Homo sapiens: one gene and its partners. The protein of the gene in region 1 interacts with the protein of each later gene in a biochemical or structural test. Each region holds a gene or a part of one and is shown in the gene's direction. Other genes may lie near its edges.

What was found. The genes of interacting proteins can lie anywhere in the genome.
Region 2: of the proteins of MAPK1 (region 1) and DUSP3, one has a biochemical effect on the other in vitro, tested with the Homo sapiens proteins (2 studies listed by BioGRID and IntAct).
Region 3: of the proteins of MAPK1 (region 1) and MAP3K1, one has a biochemical effect on the other in vitro, tested with the Homo sapiens proteins (3 studies listed by BioGRID).
Region 4: the proteins of MAPK1 (region 1) and TNFRSF1A form a complex in vitro, tested with the Homo sapiens proteins (2 studies listed by BioGRID, with this or other methods).

The regions. Positions count from the first base shown.
Region 1 is NC_000022.11:21,787,573-21,791,338, reverse strand, and holds part of MAPK1 (mitogen-activated protein kinase 1), read left to right. Parts: intron 1-2,530; coding exon 2,531-2,645; intron 2,646-2,950; coding exon 2,951-3,082; intron 3,083-3,766. UniProt on the Homo sapiens protein: Serine/threonine kinase which acts as an essential component of the MAP kinase signal transduction pathway. MAPK1/ERK2 and MAPK3/ERK1 are the 2 MAPKs which play an important role in the MAPK/ERK cascade.
Region 2 is NC_000017.11:43,768,785-43,772,550, reverse strand, and holds part of DUSP3 (dual specificity protein phosphatase 3), read left to right. Parts: intron 1-2,736; coding exon 2,737-2,942; 3' UTR 2,943-3,766. UniProt on the Homo sapiens protein: Shows activity both for tyrosine-protein phosphate and serine-protein phosphate, but displays a strong preference toward phosphotyrosines. Specifically dephosphorylates and inactivates ERK1 and ERK2.
Region 3 is NC_000005.10:56,881,476-56,885,241, forward strand, and holds part of MAP3K1 (mitogen-activated protein kinase kinase kinase 1), read left to right. Parts: intron 1-94; coding exon 95-1,391; intron 1,392-2,051; coding exon 2,052-2,204; intron 2,205-3,188; coding exon 3,189-3,351; intron 3,352-3,766. UniProt on the Homo sapiens protein: Component of a protein kinase signal transduction cascade. Activates the ERK and JNK kinase pathways by phosphorylation of MAP2K1 and MAP2K4. May phosphorylate the MAPK8/JNK1 kinase.
Region 4 is NC_000012.12:6,328,078-6,332,149, reverse strand, and holds the end of TNFRSF1A (tumor necrosis factor receptor superfamily member 1A isoform 1 precursor), read left to right. Parts: intron 1-156; exon of another isoform or gene 157-182; coding exon of another isoform or gene 183-274; intron 275-1,223; coding exon 1,224-1,297; intron 1,298-1,438; coding exon 1,439-1,552; intron 1,553-1,854; coding exon 1,855-1,883; intron 1,884-2,083; coding exon 2,084-2,372; intron 2,373-2,527; coding exon 2,528-2,838; 3' UTR 2,839-3,379; downstream 3,380-4,072. Other genes in the region: PLEKHG6 (pleckstrin homology domain-containing family G member 6), read right to left, coding at 4,005-4,014.

The DNA.
Region 1 (3,766 bases):
ATCACATGGGGTCAGGAGTTCGAGATCAGCCTGGCCAACATGGCAAAACCCTGTCTCTGCTAAAAATACAAAAAATTTAGCTGGACATAGTGGCAGGCACCTGTGATCCCAGCTACTCAGGAGGCTGAGGCAGGAGAATCGCTTGAACCCAGGAGGTGGAGGTTGCATGAGCTGAGATCGTGCCATTGCACTCCAGCCTGGGTGACAAAGCAAGACTCCGTCTCAAAAAAAAAGGACGGGTTCTCATTCTGTCACCCAGGCTGGGGTACCGTGGCACCATCTCGGCTCACTGCAACCTCCGCCTCCTGGGCTCAAGGCCATCCTCCCACCTTAGCCTCCCAAGTATCTGAGACTACAGGCACGTGCTACTGCTCATGGCTGATTTACTTATTTATTTTTGTGCTTTTCATAGAGACAGGTTGTTGTGTTTCTTTAGTCTCCTTTAAGAGTGCAGATGAGCTATTTTGTAGAATGCCCCTCAGTTTTGGGTCATGCATTTTTAACATGAATACCAGAAAAGCACTTCATTGTATTAGAAGGCACTTCTGGAGCCAGGTATGGTGCCTCATGCCGTAATCCCAGCTCTTTGGGAGGCTGAGGCAGGAGGATCATTTGAGCCCAGGAGTTTGAAACCAGCCTGGGCAAATAGTGGGACCCCTTCTCTACAAAAAATTTAAAAATCAACCAGGTGTGGTGGTGTATGCCTGTGGCCCACCTACTGTGTGCCAGCTACTCAGTAGTGCCAGCTACTCAGGACCTGGCTGAGGTGAGAGGATCACCTGAGACAAGGAAGTTGAATTTGCAGTGAGGCATGATTACACCATTGCACTTCAGCCTGAGTGACAGAGTGATGACACCATCTCTTAATTTTAAAAGAGTCAGCTTATATTCCTTGGAGAAACATCTTTTTTGCACCATTGTTATGATTCAGACAGAATCCTTCCATGATTTTTTTTTTTTTTTTTTAATTTTTAGAGAAAGGGTCTCACTCTGTCACCCAGGCTGGAATGCATTGGCTCGGTCACAGCTCACTGCAGCCTCCAATCCCTGGGCTTAAGTGATCCTCCCACCTCAGCCTCCCGAGTAGCTGGGACTGCAGGTGTGAGCCACCATGTGTGGCAAAATAATAATAATAATGATAATAATAATAATAATTAGTTAATACCCAGTGTTGTTGAGGACATGAGGAAATGCATTTTCTTTCACATGCTGCTATTAGGAGTGTAACAGTGCAACTGCAGTCATAGTTCACTGCAGCCTCAAACTCCTGGCCTCAAGCAGTACTCCCACCTCAGCCTCCCAAAGTATCCTCCCATGACTTCTAACAGGATTCCTTTAAAAGAAAACATATTCCTGAAAAATGAATAGGAAAAGAAGATGAGAATTCTTTTATTTTATTTTATTTGTTATGTTATGTTATATGTTATGTTATGTTTTATGTTATGTTTATGTTATGTTATGTTATGTTATGTTATGTTATGTTATGTTATGTTATATGTTATGTTATGTTATTTTTGGAGATGGAGTCTCCCTGTGTTGCCCAGGCTGGAGTGCAGTGGTGCAATCTCGGCTCACTGCAACCTCTGCCTCCTAGGTTCAAGCAATTCTCCTGCCTCTGCCTCCCAAGTAGCTGGAACTATGGGTGCCCACCACCACGCCCGGCTAATTTTTGTAGTTTTAGTAGAGACAGGGTTTCACTATGTTGGCCAGGCTGATCTTGAACTTCTGACATCAGGTGATTCGCCCGTCTCGGCATCCCAAAGTGCTGGGATTACAGACGTGAGCCACCATGCCCAGCTGAGAATATTTTAGAAGAGATTGGTAAAATATGATGGAGCTAGCACACACTCCCCCAAACCCAGAAAAGGTTTTTAGACCTTTTTTCTTTTTCCAGCTCCAATTTATGACAATTCTAAATCTGTCTCTCAAATTGTTTCAAAAAAGGACGGATGTATACTTTGGAAATTCTAATTTAATAAGTTAATCAACTTTGTGGGTTTGTTGTTGTTTTGAGACAGAGTCTCGCTCTGTCACCCAGGCTGGAGTGCAGTGGCACGATCTTGGCTCACTGCAACCTCTGCCTCCTGGGTTCAAGCAATTCTCCTGCCTCAGCCTCCCACGTAGCTGGGATTACGGGCACCCACTACCATGCCCGGCTAATTTTTTTGTATTTTTAGTAGAGATGGGGTTTCACCATGTTGGCCAGGCTAGTCTCAAACTCCTGGCCTCAAGTGATCCGCCCGCCTCGGCCTCCCAAAGTGCTGGGATTACAGGCATTAGCCACTGTGCCCAGCCCAAGTTAATCAACTATGAAGAGAAAAATAAAATCACATAATCTTGGTTGTTCAGCCTCTCATAAGAAAGCCAAATTGTTTTTTGCTTTTCCATGTTGTTTACTTGTATTTCTGAATTGTAGAGTCAAAGGAGAAGTTCAGAGTCCCATCAGCAATGCACCTGTCATACAGGAAGATCTCATCATGTCCTGTAACACCAGATACCATTTTCAGTCTTTTCTCTCTTTCTCCTGCAGGGCTACACCAAGTCCATTGATATTTGGTCTGTAGGCTGCATTCTGGCAGAAATGCTTTCTAACAGGCCCATCTTTCCAGGGAAGCATTATCTTGACCAGCTGAACCACATTTTGGGTAAGGTTCCCGAGCCCTTCAGGAGCTAGATTTACTCAAGTTTGTACAGCTTACATCAAAGTCACTTCATTAAATTAAGAAGAGTTCTAATATACTCTTTAACCTGTGGTAGGTGTGAATTTTTAACCTTCTCTGATTTAAAATGTTAAGGACTTTTGTGTAAAAACATAAGAAAGGTAAACATCAGGAGTGGTGATAAGCAACGGCTCATATCAATTATCAGGGTTCATTCCGACTCAGAGTTGATGGTGTGTAGTCATTTACCTTGGTCCTGATAACTAATAGCTAATTTTTTTATCTGATAGGTATTCTTGGATCCCCATCACAAGAAGACCTGAATTGTATAATAAATTTAAAAGCTAGGAACTATTTGCTTTCTCTTCCACACAAAAATAAGGTGCCATGGAACAGGCTGTTCCCAAATGCTGACTCCAAAGGTAAATGTTATTTCGTTGATTAGTTTTTTCTTAGGCTTAGCTTCGCGTTTATTTGTTAAATTGTTAGGTCACTAGCCTGAAAAATGAGCCTATGGCTATTGGATAATGCTTTCTTTAGTGCTCACTCTGAATTGTTGTCTTCCCCCTTTTTTTTTTTGGAAACAGTGGCAGTGCAGTAAGGGAACCTGGTAATGACGGTCTAGTTCTCCACCTTTTGGTTTCTTTGCTAATTTTAATTTGCATTAAGGTCACTTTTTTTTTGTTTTTGTTTGAGACAGTGTCTCACTCTGTCGCCCAGGCTGGAGTGTAGTGGCCCGATCTCGGCTCACTGCAACCTCCTCCTCCCGGGTTCAAGCGATTCTTCTGCCTCAGCCTCCCAAGTAACTGGGACTACAGACGCGTACCACCACGCCTGGCTCATTTTTGTATTTTTAGTAGAGACAGGGTTTCACCATGCTGGCCAGGCTGGTCTCGAACTCCTGACCTTTTGATCTGCCCACCTTGGCCTCCCAAAACTGGGATTACAGGCGTGAGCCACAGCGTTCAGCCTAAGGTCACATTTTTAGGTCTCAGGAAGTCTAGGACCCTGCAAACAAATTACACCTTTTCATCTTGTCACTTGATAATTTTTAAAATCAGGTTTATTGAAGAATAATTTACACAGAATAAAATTCACACTTTTTA
Region 2 (3,766 bases), on another chromosome or scaffold:
AGCTGGGTGGGATGGCTGAGGGTACTCAAGAGGGAGCAGTCACTTCTAGCTGGGAAAACAGCTTCATGGAGGAGGTGGCATCTGGGCTGAGCCTAGAGGAATGGGAGGTTGAACTGGCCCCTTTCCCAGTAGGCTCTGTGTGCACTGGGCATGCAGAGTATGTTCTAGATGGTAAGGTGGCTGCTCTGCAGAGGGTCTCATTCCTAGGGTGGGGCAGGGGAAGCCCCACTCTGAATATTTCGGGCATACAGGCCGGAGGGTGAATGGGCAAGAAAGTGGAGGACTCCTGCTTCCTGATTTGGAAGGCATTGGGAAAATAGAGTGGTGTTTTGGGGGTAGGGTGATAGGAGCAGAAGAGACTCTGTTGGACTCTGGGCTAGCAGATTCCTTGCCAAACAATGGCCTTATAGAGGTGTTAGTAGGTAATAATTCACTCAGCTAGTCAGCAAATATTTATTGAGCACATAGTGTATGCTAGAGATTGTAACGCATCCAAAAATCAATGCCCCACATTTCTTGCCTTTTTTTTTTTTTTTTTTTGAGACGGAGTCTCGCTCTTGTCACCCAGGCTGGAGTACAGTGGCTCAATCTCAGCTCACTGCACCCTCCACCTCCCAGGTTCAAGTGATTCTCCTGCCTCAGCTTTCTGAGTAGCTGGGATTACAGGCATGTGCCACCATGCCCAGCTAATTTTTTGTATTTTTAGTAGAAACGGGGTTTCGCCATGTTGGCCAGGATGGTCTCGAACTCCTGACTTCAGGGGATCCGCCCACCTCGACCTCCCAAAGTGTTGGGATTATAGGTGTGAGCCACCGTGTCCGGCCATTTCTTGCTCTTAAAGAATTCGTCCTCTGGGAGAGAAAAGTCAATCTGCGCATGTCTGGCAATGACACAGGACCAGGGCTGCTGTAGTTGAGGGTGTACTAGGTGCTACCAGAGGATGCCCAGTATTGGGTAACATTTATTGAGTGCACATGGATGCCAGGTGCTAACCTAGAGGATTCATGTGTCCTCTCCTTTAATCTAACCACCTTGTGCAATGGGTACTATTGGCCAGATAAGAAAACTGAGGCACCTTGAGGTTAGGTGGATCATGAGTTAATAACCAGTGTATTGGTCAGGATTCTCTAGAAAAAACAGAACCAATAGAATATACAGTCGGTCCTCCATATCCGTGGGTTCCACATCTGTGGATTCAACTAACCTCAGTCTGAAAAATATTAAAAACAACATAAAAAGATGTTATGTCTGTACTGAACATGTACAGATTTTTTTTCTTGTCATTATTCTCTAGATGATATAATCTAATAAATGTTTACATTGTCTTGGGTATCATAAGTCATCTGGAGATGATTTAAAGTATAGGGGAGGATGTGCTGTGCAGAGGTTATTTGCATATATGATGTCATTTTATAATCAGGGACTTGAGCATCTGTGGATTTGGGTATCGGCAGGAGGTCCTGGAGCCAATCTGCCCTGTGGATATTGAGAGATGGTGTCTATTTATATATATATATATACACACACATACACACACACACACACACACACACACACACATATATATACACGCACACACACACTATATTAAAATAACCCCACCTCTACTAAAAGATACAAAAAAATTAGCTGGGCATGGTGGCATGCGCCTGTAGTCCCAGCTACTCAGGAGGCTGAGGCAGGAGAATTGCTTGAACCCGGGAGGCGGAGGCTGAAGTGAGCCGAGATCGCGCCACTGCACTCCAGCCTGGGCAACAAGAAGGAAACTCCATCTCAAAAAAAAAGAAACAAAACACTACCAGCACCCTGGAAAGCACCCCCAGTCTCTATGCTCCACCACCCCCATCCCCAGCTCCCAGGGCCTCTGCCACGCGGGCTTCTTTTTTTTTTTGAGACAGAGTCTCGCTCTGTCACCCAGGCTGGAGCACAATCTCAGCACAATCTCACCTCACCGCAACCTCTGCCTCCTGGGTTCAAGCAATTCTCTGGCCTCAGCCTCCTGAGTAGCTGGGATTATAGGCTCGCGCCACCACACCCAGCTATTTTTTTGTATCTTTAGTAAAGACGGGATTTCACTATGTTGGCCAGTCTGGTCTCGAACTCCTGACCTTGTGATCCAGTTGCCTTGGCCTCCCAAAGTGCTGGGATTACAGGCGTGAGCCACTGTGCCCAGCCCCTTGCAGGCTTCTGACAGCACAGATGGTTTTGCCCGCTTTCCTACTCTGTGGGCTCATCCACCTCATATGTGTGTGCTGCCTCCGTGTTGCTTCTGCTAAGTGGCAGTCTGGTCATTCTTTGTATTTGTCCTTTCTACTGTGGATGGGCCTTTGGGGGTTTCTAACTGTGGGCCATGATGTGCAGTGTTGCCTGTGAACATTCTGGCCCATGTTCGTGAATGTGAATGCGTATCTCTATTGGACCTGGGCCTGGGAGTGGGATTGCTGGGCCAGAGGGGATGCACGTGTTCAGCTTGAGGAGATACCGCCGTGCCGCACAGCTTTCCAAAGTGGTTGTGCCAATTCACGCCTCACCTCCCCCAGCCACGCAGAAGAGTTCCAGTTGCCCCATATCTTCACCAGCACTTTGGGTTTTCCATCCTTTTCATTTTAGCCATTCTGACAGGCACACAGTGGCGTGACATTGTGCTTTTAAGTGGCACTTCACGGAAGAGTCTTGACCAACGCCATGGTGTGATGGGACGCCCCCAGCTCACCACGTCTCCCCTGTTTCTTACAGGCCGGGTGCTCGTCCACTGCCGGGAAGGTTATAGCCGCTCCCCAACGCTAGTTATCGCCTACCTCATGATGCGGCAGAAGATGGACGTCAAGTCTGCCCTGAGCATCGTGAGGCAGAACCGTGAGATCGGCCCCAACGATGGCTTCCTGGCCCAGCTCTGCCAGCTCAATGACAGACTAGCCAAGGAGGGGAAGTTGAAACCCTAGGGCACCCCCACCACCTCTGCTCGAGAGGTCCGTGGGGGAGGCCGTGGGCAAAGGTGTCCCGAGCTGCCATGTTTAGGAAACACACTGTACCCTGCTCCCAGCATCACAAGGCACTTGTCTACAAGTGTGTCCCAACACAGTCCTGGGCCACTTTCCCCACCCTGGGGAGCACATAAAGAAGCTTGCCAAGGGGGGCGTCCTTGCTCCCCAGTTGTCCTGTTTCTGTAACTTATGATGTCTTTTCCCTGAGATGGGGGCTCAGAGGGGGAAGGCCTGTGGCCTGCATGCTTCCCGATGGCCCACGGCAGGAGGTGTGTGGAAGTGTAAGGCCTAAGATGCTCACAGAGGTCCCTCATGACCTCCCTTCCCCAACTCCCGAATCCTCTCTTGAGTGTGGACCTCAACACCTTGAGCCCTAGTAAAGGAACTATGCAAATGCAGGCCACTCTCCCCACCACGTCTGTGCCCTGCACTGTCCCCACAGCCTTCCACACCCTGTGCATAGGCAGCCCTCTCACGTCTTGAGGTCCGAAGCTGGGGTGGGGGTGTCCGTCAGTTATTAGTGGATGGAGATTCCCACAGCAAGGCTGCATTTGAATGATTTCCTTAGGATGAATGGTCCCTACACAAAGAGGCCTTGTGGGCAAACCTGGAGAACCCTCCTAAATCCATAGAGTTTTCAAAATGTGAATCTTTGGAAGCCTTGAGTTCAGAATCTGCTGCTCTGGAATATTTCCCTTCGATCTTATCTCAGTCACTTCGTTTTTGAGAAGAGTGATGCCTTGGGCATGCTTTTTTTTTTTTCTTTTTTAGAAAACAGGGAG
Region 3 (3,766 bases), on another chromosome or scaffold:
AGTATACATGCTGTAAATTACTACCATTTTTTAAGTTTCCATGTATTTTTCAGTAATTGGAACTTATATGGTAATGAATGTTTTTTTCTTTCAGGTATAAGAAGCTGCTGTCCCTCTTAACCTTTGCTTTGCAGTCCATTGATAATTCCCACTCAATGGTTGGCAAACTTTCCAGAAGGATCTACTTGAGTTCTGCAAGAATGGTTACTACAGTACCCCATGTGTTTTCAAAACTGTTAGAAATGCTGAGTGTTTCCAGTTCCACTCACTTCACCAGGATGCGTCGCCGTTTGATGGCTATTGCAGATGAGGTGGAAATTGCCGAAGCCATCCAGTTGGGCGTAGAAGACACTTTGGATGGTCAACAGGACAGCTTCTTGCAGGCATCTGTTCCCAACAACTATCTGGAAACCACAGAGAACAGTTCCCCTGAGTGCACAGTCCATTTAGAGAAAACTGGAAAAGGATTATGTGCTACAAAATTGAGTGCCAGTTCAGAGGACATTTCTGAGAGACTGGCCAGCATTTCAGTAGGACCTTCTAGTTCAACAACAACAACAACAACAACAACAGAGCAACCAAAGCCAATGGTTCAAACAAAAGGCAGACCCCACAGTCAGTGTTTGAACTCCTCTCCTTTATCTCATCATTCCCAATTAATGTTTCCAGCCTTGTCAACCCCTTCTTCTTCTACCCCATCTGTACCAGCTGGCACTGCAACAGATGTCTCTAAGCATAGACTTCAGGGATTCATTCCCTGCAGAATACCTTCTGCATCTCCTCAAACACAGCGCAAGTTTTCTCTACAATTCCACAGAAACTGTCCTGAAAACAAAGACTCAGATAAACTTTCCCCAGTCTTTACTCAGTCAAGACCCTTGCCCTCCAGTAACATACACAGGCCAAAGCCATCTAGACCTACCCCAGGTAATACAAGTAAACAGGGAGATCCCTCAAAAAATAGCATGACACTTGATCTGAACAGTAGTTCCAAATGTGATGACAGCTTTGGCTGTAGCAGCAATAGTAGTAATGCTGTTATACCCAGTGACGAGACAGTGTTCACCCCAGTAGAGGAGAAATGCAGATTAGATGTCAATACAGAGCTCAACTCCAGTATTGAGGACCTTCTTGAAGCATCTATGCCTTCAAGTGATACAACAGTAACTTTTAAGTCAGAAGTTGCTGTCCTGTCTCCTGAAAAGGCTGAAAATGATGATACCTACAAAGATGATGTGAATCATAATCAAAAGTGCAAAGAGAAGATGGAAGCTGAAGAAGAAGAAGCTTTAGCAATTGCCATGGCAATGTCAGCGTCTCAGGATGCCCTCCCCATAGTTCCTCAGCTGCAGGTTGAAAATGGAGAAGATATCATCATTATTCAACAGGATGTAAGTATAGATTCTTTAAGAGGTTAGAAAACTTCCTTGGGGCTGGGCACAGTGACTCATACCTGGAATTCCAGCACTTGGGGAGGCTGAGGCCGAAGGATTGCTTGAGCACAGGAGTTCGAAACTAGCCTGGTCAACAAAGCAAGACCCTGTCTCTACAAAAAATTTTAAAAATTAGCCAGGCATGATAGTGTACACCTGGGGTCCCAGCTACTCAGGAAGCTGAGGTGGGGAGGGTCACTTGAACCTGGGAGTTTGAGGCTACAGTGAGCTGTGATTACACCATTGTACTCTAGCCTGAATGACAGAGCAAGACACTGTCTCACAGAGAGCTTCCTTGGACCATACTAAAATAAACCTAATTCAGAAATGCTGCTTCTAACATTCAGAAGCAGAGTTTTCCACATAAAATTATTACTTATACAACAATAATGTTTGTACTGTTTAAACAGCAATAATTCTTGCCTATGGGCATTTCCGGTTAATTGTATAATGGTGATTACTTTTGCATTTGCTGTCGGTCACAAATACCTTCCATTCAGAGGTCACATTTATAGGTGGTTTGGGAAGCCAGACTGAATAAGAATAATATCTTGCAGACTAATTTCACAAAATCTTACTCCTTTAACAGTAAAAAGATTGCTTTCGTTTAATATGTAGACACCAGAGACTCTACCAGGACATACCAAAGCAAAACAACCGTATAGAGAAGACACTGAATGGCTGAAAGGTCAACAGATAGGCCTTGGAGCATTTTCTTCTTGTTATCAGGCTCAAGATGTGGGAACTGGAACTTTAATGGCTGTTAAACAGGTAAATATCTAGTGAGCATATAAATGAAATGACTCAAATCACAAAATGAAGCATGTTCAGTAAAAAGAATAAAGGATATGTCCACGTGTGTGTACTTTAGTTCTTTAAACTTTGAGAAACTTAGTTTCAAAGTAGATGTTTCTAAAGCACCAGAAACATCATGAATTCTGTTATTGTTAAAAGTTGAGGCCACGCGTGGTGGCTCACACCTGTAATCCCAGCACTTTGGGAGGCCAAGGTGGTTGGATCATTTGAGGCCAGGAGTTCAAGACCAGCCTGGCCAGCATGGTGAAACCCTACCTCTACTAAAAATACAAAAATCGGCCGGGCAGGGTGGTAGGCACCTGTAGTCCCAGCTACTCAGGAGGCTGAGACAGAAGAATTGCTTGAACTCAGGAGGTAGAGGTTGCAGTGAGCCGAGATCGCACCACTGTACTCCAGCCTGAGCAACAGAGCAAGACTGTCTCAAAAAAAAATAAATAAAAGTTGAAGTATGATTATTGTAAGACTACAATATCAAGATGGGCCTTACAAAGGTTTTTTTGGTTTTGCTTTTTGTAGGTAGTAGAGGTGGTTTTCAGGTACTTCTTTCAACAGTGTACTTGTGCGGTGCCATCTTGGGGTTTCAGTGGTTTACTTTTTATTATAACGAGCATACTTAATCAGGATAGGAAAATTATTAAACTTTCATTTTTAAATCATGTTGATTCTTCTCCCATATTTGGGCTTTTCTCATCTTTACTCTGAGACTATTGGAATATTGACTATATCCCAATATTTTTGTCATTTTTCTGATGTTTACTGCTGCTTAAGCTAGATTCTTAGTGTTTAAAAGAGTTTGACTTGGGTTTGTTTAAAGTACATTGCATCCATAAGCATAAATGCCATCTGTTGCTAATAAAGTGCTAGTTTGCATTTGTTCATTTTAGATCAGATTGCTAGTGAAAATATGCAAAACTTTGTGAACGTGTTTATTTGAAACAGGTGACTTATGTCAGAAACACATCTTCTGAGCAAGAAGAAGTAGTAGAAGCACTAAGAGAAGAGATAAGAATGATGAGCCATCTGAATCATCCAAACATCATTAGGATGTTGGGAGCCACGTGTGAGAAGAGCAATTACAATCTCTTCATTGAATGGATGGCAGGTATGTTAATGTTTTAAATTACAAAATAGTAGTACGTGGATTTAACTTTCTGCAATTTAGGAAAAACCAGTTTAATTAAAATTTATTTCTATCAAATAGTTTGGGTTTCTAAAAACAAATCACCCCAATATATTAGTATGAACCACAAATACTTCGTTTTGTATTTCATTTACTATAAATGAAATATTGACTACCTCTACCTTTTAAATTTTTCCAGTGTGTTTTTAAATGATTGTGTAGCATTGTTGTTTTTAATACTTGATATGTATAAGATATGTATATTTCCAGGTAGCCATGATAAATTGGACAGATGAGGAAGTGTTTTAACATAACAATATACAAACAAAATTAACATATAACTTGAAAACTTACTACAAGTAAACTAGCACTGAAGCATAAAGTTGAACCTTGTCAT
Region 4 (4,072 bases), on another chromosome or scaffold:
GATTTCTTATATTTAAAGTAAGCATAATGACATTCATTTGGTGAATTTGTGAGAACCAAAAACAAAGAAACAAACAAAACCTACAACACGTCTGACACAAAACTATTTATTTTCCATTAATCTTCTTTTTTTTTTTTTTTTTTTTTTTTGACACAGAGTCCTGCTCTGTCGCCCAGGCTGGAATGCAGTGGCGCGATCTCGGCTCACTGCAACCTCTGCCTCCCAGATTCAAGCAATTCTCCTGCTTCAGCCTCCCAAGTAGCTGGGATTACAGGCACGTGCCACCATGCCTGGCTAATTTTTGTATTTTTAGTAGAGATGGGGTTTCACCATCTTGGTCAGGCTGGTCTCAAACTCCTGGTGATCCACCTGCCTCTGCCTCCCAAAGTGCTGGGATTACAGCCGTGAGCCACTGCACCCAGCCGGCTTCATCTCTTCTTGAAATCACTTTTATACCATTCTATGTGGTTCTCACCATGAGCTTGAGTGGTGGGCTAAAGTGCCTCTCCCTGCTTTCAGCTTCCTGCTGGGAACTCACTCTCTCAAGTTCCTTCCAGCACCACCCCATAGAGTTCCCATCACTCCACACTGTCCAGTGACAACTCCCAACATGGAAGATCTGCTAGTTCTACAGGGTGCTCTCTGGCTGCCCCAGTAACATGTGTTTTTAAATTTTTCACATGCATGTTTGACCCCGACTCCCCGAAGTCAGGTACTGTAACTAGCAGTGTCATTTAAGAAAAAGCCCTTTAACCTCTCTTTGCCAAAGGATTCTTATCAGCAAAACAGTGATGAAACAACAATCCCATAACAGCTAGCTGGCTACCTTCTCAAGCACTTATTAAATGAGGCATAATGATTTTGCTTAATCCTCAATCCTGAGAGGTGGGCGATCCCTGTGGTGATGAGGAAACCGAGGCTTGGGGGTTAATGGCTTGCCTAGATTCACACTGCTAGCCAAGGAATGAACTGGAATTTACACCCTGACCCTGACTGCTTTTCACATTTTCTACACAGCCTTTTCAAGATCCCTGCCAATTCTAAAATTAAATGATTCTATGATTAACTGTGTTTCATTCTTCTGCATCAGTTCCCAAAACAAATTATATCAAGAGACAGCAAAAATATTTGTAAAGAAAGGATGTCCAACAATCTGTGTGGTTGTTTTTCTGTGTTCCTCCAATGGTAGGGCCTCTGTTCACCAGTGCCGTCTCTTCTTTTAGCTGTAAGAAAAGCCTGGAGTGCACGAAGTTGTGCCTACCCCAGATTGAGAATGTTAAGGGCACTGAGGACTCAGGTGAGGAGAAGTGACCTGGTGCCCATGCTCACCTGCCCTCTCCCTCTTCTTGCCCCCACCCGTCCATCCATCCCACCCATCCATCTATCCCTGCGGCCCCCCTCTGCCCGCTCCTCTGACCAACACCTGCTTTGTCTGCAGGCACCACAGTGCTGTTGCCCCTGGTCATTTTCTTTGGTCTTTGCCTTTTATCCCTCCTCTTCATTGGTTTAATGTATCGCTACCAACGGTGGAAGTCCAAGCTCTACTCCATTGGTGAGTGGGGGCTTTGGGAGGGAGAGGGAGCTGGTGGGGGTGAGGGAGGACATGGGTGGGTGCGATGGACATGTGTGGAGGGAGGTGAGGAGTGTCCCCTCAGTTCATACCGCTGGGGACTCTGGGCAGAAGGTGGCCCTGGATGGCTGGGGAGATGTCGAGCTGCATCAGTAGCTCTCTCGTCCCTGGGGCCACATAGGCCCTGAGGCATGTCACCACAAGTCCCCACTGCCAGCTGAGTCCAGGGTGCCAGGGCTGAGAGAGGAAGTGAAATTTATGATGCTTTCTTTCTTTTTCCTCAGTTTGTGGGAAATCGACACCTGAAAAAGAGGTGAGATGAAATGAGAGAGTTACTCCCAAATGTCCCTGACCATTCCTTATAATTGCCTAATGCTCAGATCCCCTGGAATCATCCTTCACTTTCCGGGGGCTCGCCTCATTCCCTCTAAGTCCCAACCCCCACGTAGAATAAAGAGGGCCGGGGCTGGTTTTCGCTGCCGCACTAATGCTGCGCCACCTTCTCTCTTTCAGGGGGAGCTTGAAGGAACTACTACTAAGCCCCTGGCCCCAAACCCAAGCTTCAGTCCCACTCCAGGCTTCACCCCCACCCTGGGCTTCAGTCCCGTGCCCAGTTCCACCTTCACCTCCAGCTCCACCTATACCCCCGGTGACTGTCCCAACTTTGCGGCTCCCCGCAGAGAGGTGGCACCACCCTATCAGGGGGCTGACCCCATCCTTGCGACAGCCCTCGCCTCCGACCCCATCCCCAACCCCCTTCAGAAGTGGGAGGACAGCGCCCACAAGCCACAGAGCCTAGACAGTGAGTTTCTCCCGCGGCTGGAGACGAGGAGGCTGGGGGAGGGCCGGGGGAGCGCGGGAGGCGCTCCCAGAGGGGACCACGAGAGGCGGAGGGCGCGGGATGCGGGGCGGGGCCTGGGGTTGCCGCCCGAGGCTCACCGGCCCGCGTCCCCGCAGCTGATGACCCCGCGACGCTGTACGCCGTGGTGGAGAACGTGCCCCCGTTGCGCTGGAAGGAATTCGTGCGGCGCCTAGGGCTGAGCGACCACGAGATCGATCGGCTGGAGCTGCAGAACGGGCGCTGCCTGCGCGAGGCGCAATACAGCATGCTGGCGACCTGGAGGCGGCGCACGCCGCGGCGCGAGGCCACGCTGGAGCTGCTGGGACGCGTGCTCCGCGACATGGACCTGCTGGGCTGCCTGGAGGACATCGAGGAGGCGCTTTGCGGCCCCGCCGCCCTCCCGCCCGCGCCCAGTCTTCTCAGATGAGGCTGCGCCCCTGCGGGCAGCTCTAAGGACCGTCCTGCGAGATCGCCTTCCAACCCCACTTTTTTCTGGAAAGGAGGGGTCCTGCAGGGGCAAGCAGGAGCTAGCAGCCGCCTACTTGGTGCTAACCCCTCGATGTACATAGCTTTTCTCAGCTGCCTGCGCGCCGCCGACAGTCAGCGCTGTGCGCGCGGAGAGAGGTGCGCCGTGGGCTCAAGAGCCTGAGTGGGTGGTTTGCGAGGATGAGGGACGCTATGCCTCATGCCCGTTTTGGGTGTCCTCACCAGCAAGGCTGCTCGGGGGCCCCTGGTTCGTCCCTGAGCCTTTTTCACAGTGCATAAGCAGTTTTTTTTGTTTTTGTTTTGTTTTGTTTTGTTTTTAAATCAATCATGTTACACTAATAGAAACTTGGCACTCCTGTGCCCTCTGCCTGGACAAGCACATAGCAAGCTGAACTGTCCTAAGGCAGGGGCGAGCACGGAACAATGGGGCCTTCAGCTGGAGCTGTGGACTTTTGTACATACACTAAAATTCTGAAGTTAAAGCTCTGCTCTTGGAGACAGTGGTCTGTCGGGATGGGAGGTGGGGGCAGAGGCCCAGATCCTGAGGGGTGAGATGGGAAAAGCCCTGCACTAGGGCCAGGTAGCCCATCACCATCACGCCAAGTGACAGAGGAGTAGCAGGTTCTTGTTCTGAACACCGTCATCTGTTGCCCAAGCTGGAGTGCGCTCACTGCAGCCTCCAACCCTTGGGCTCATGGGGTCCTCCCGCCTCAGCCTCCGGACACAGGCACACCACCACACCTGGGTAATTTTTAAAATTTTTTTTTGTAAAGACAGGGTTTCCCTATATTGCCCAGGCTGGTCTGGAACTCCTGGGCTCAAGGGATCCTCCCACCTCAGCCTCCCAAAGTGCTGGGATTACAGGCAGCCATGCCCAGCCAGGGCAGTCATTTTTATGCACAACTTTCTGTGGGGCTCAGGTGCACCTATGATACATAAATTTACAGTTCTTGATCCCCAAACAGAGCAGGAGGCAGGGTGCCTGGGCCAGGCTTCCTTTGGGAAATGTGGTCCTTGAGGTAGAGTCACAGATGCCGGAGGGTGACCAGCACTACTGGGGAGAGATCTCCTCTGGGAGAGATGCATGCCAAAGGTCCTCTGCATTCCTCATACCTCTCTGAAAAGACAGGAGGGGGTGTTAGGCGACATTCAGTGGCAACGGGTGAGGGTCAGGT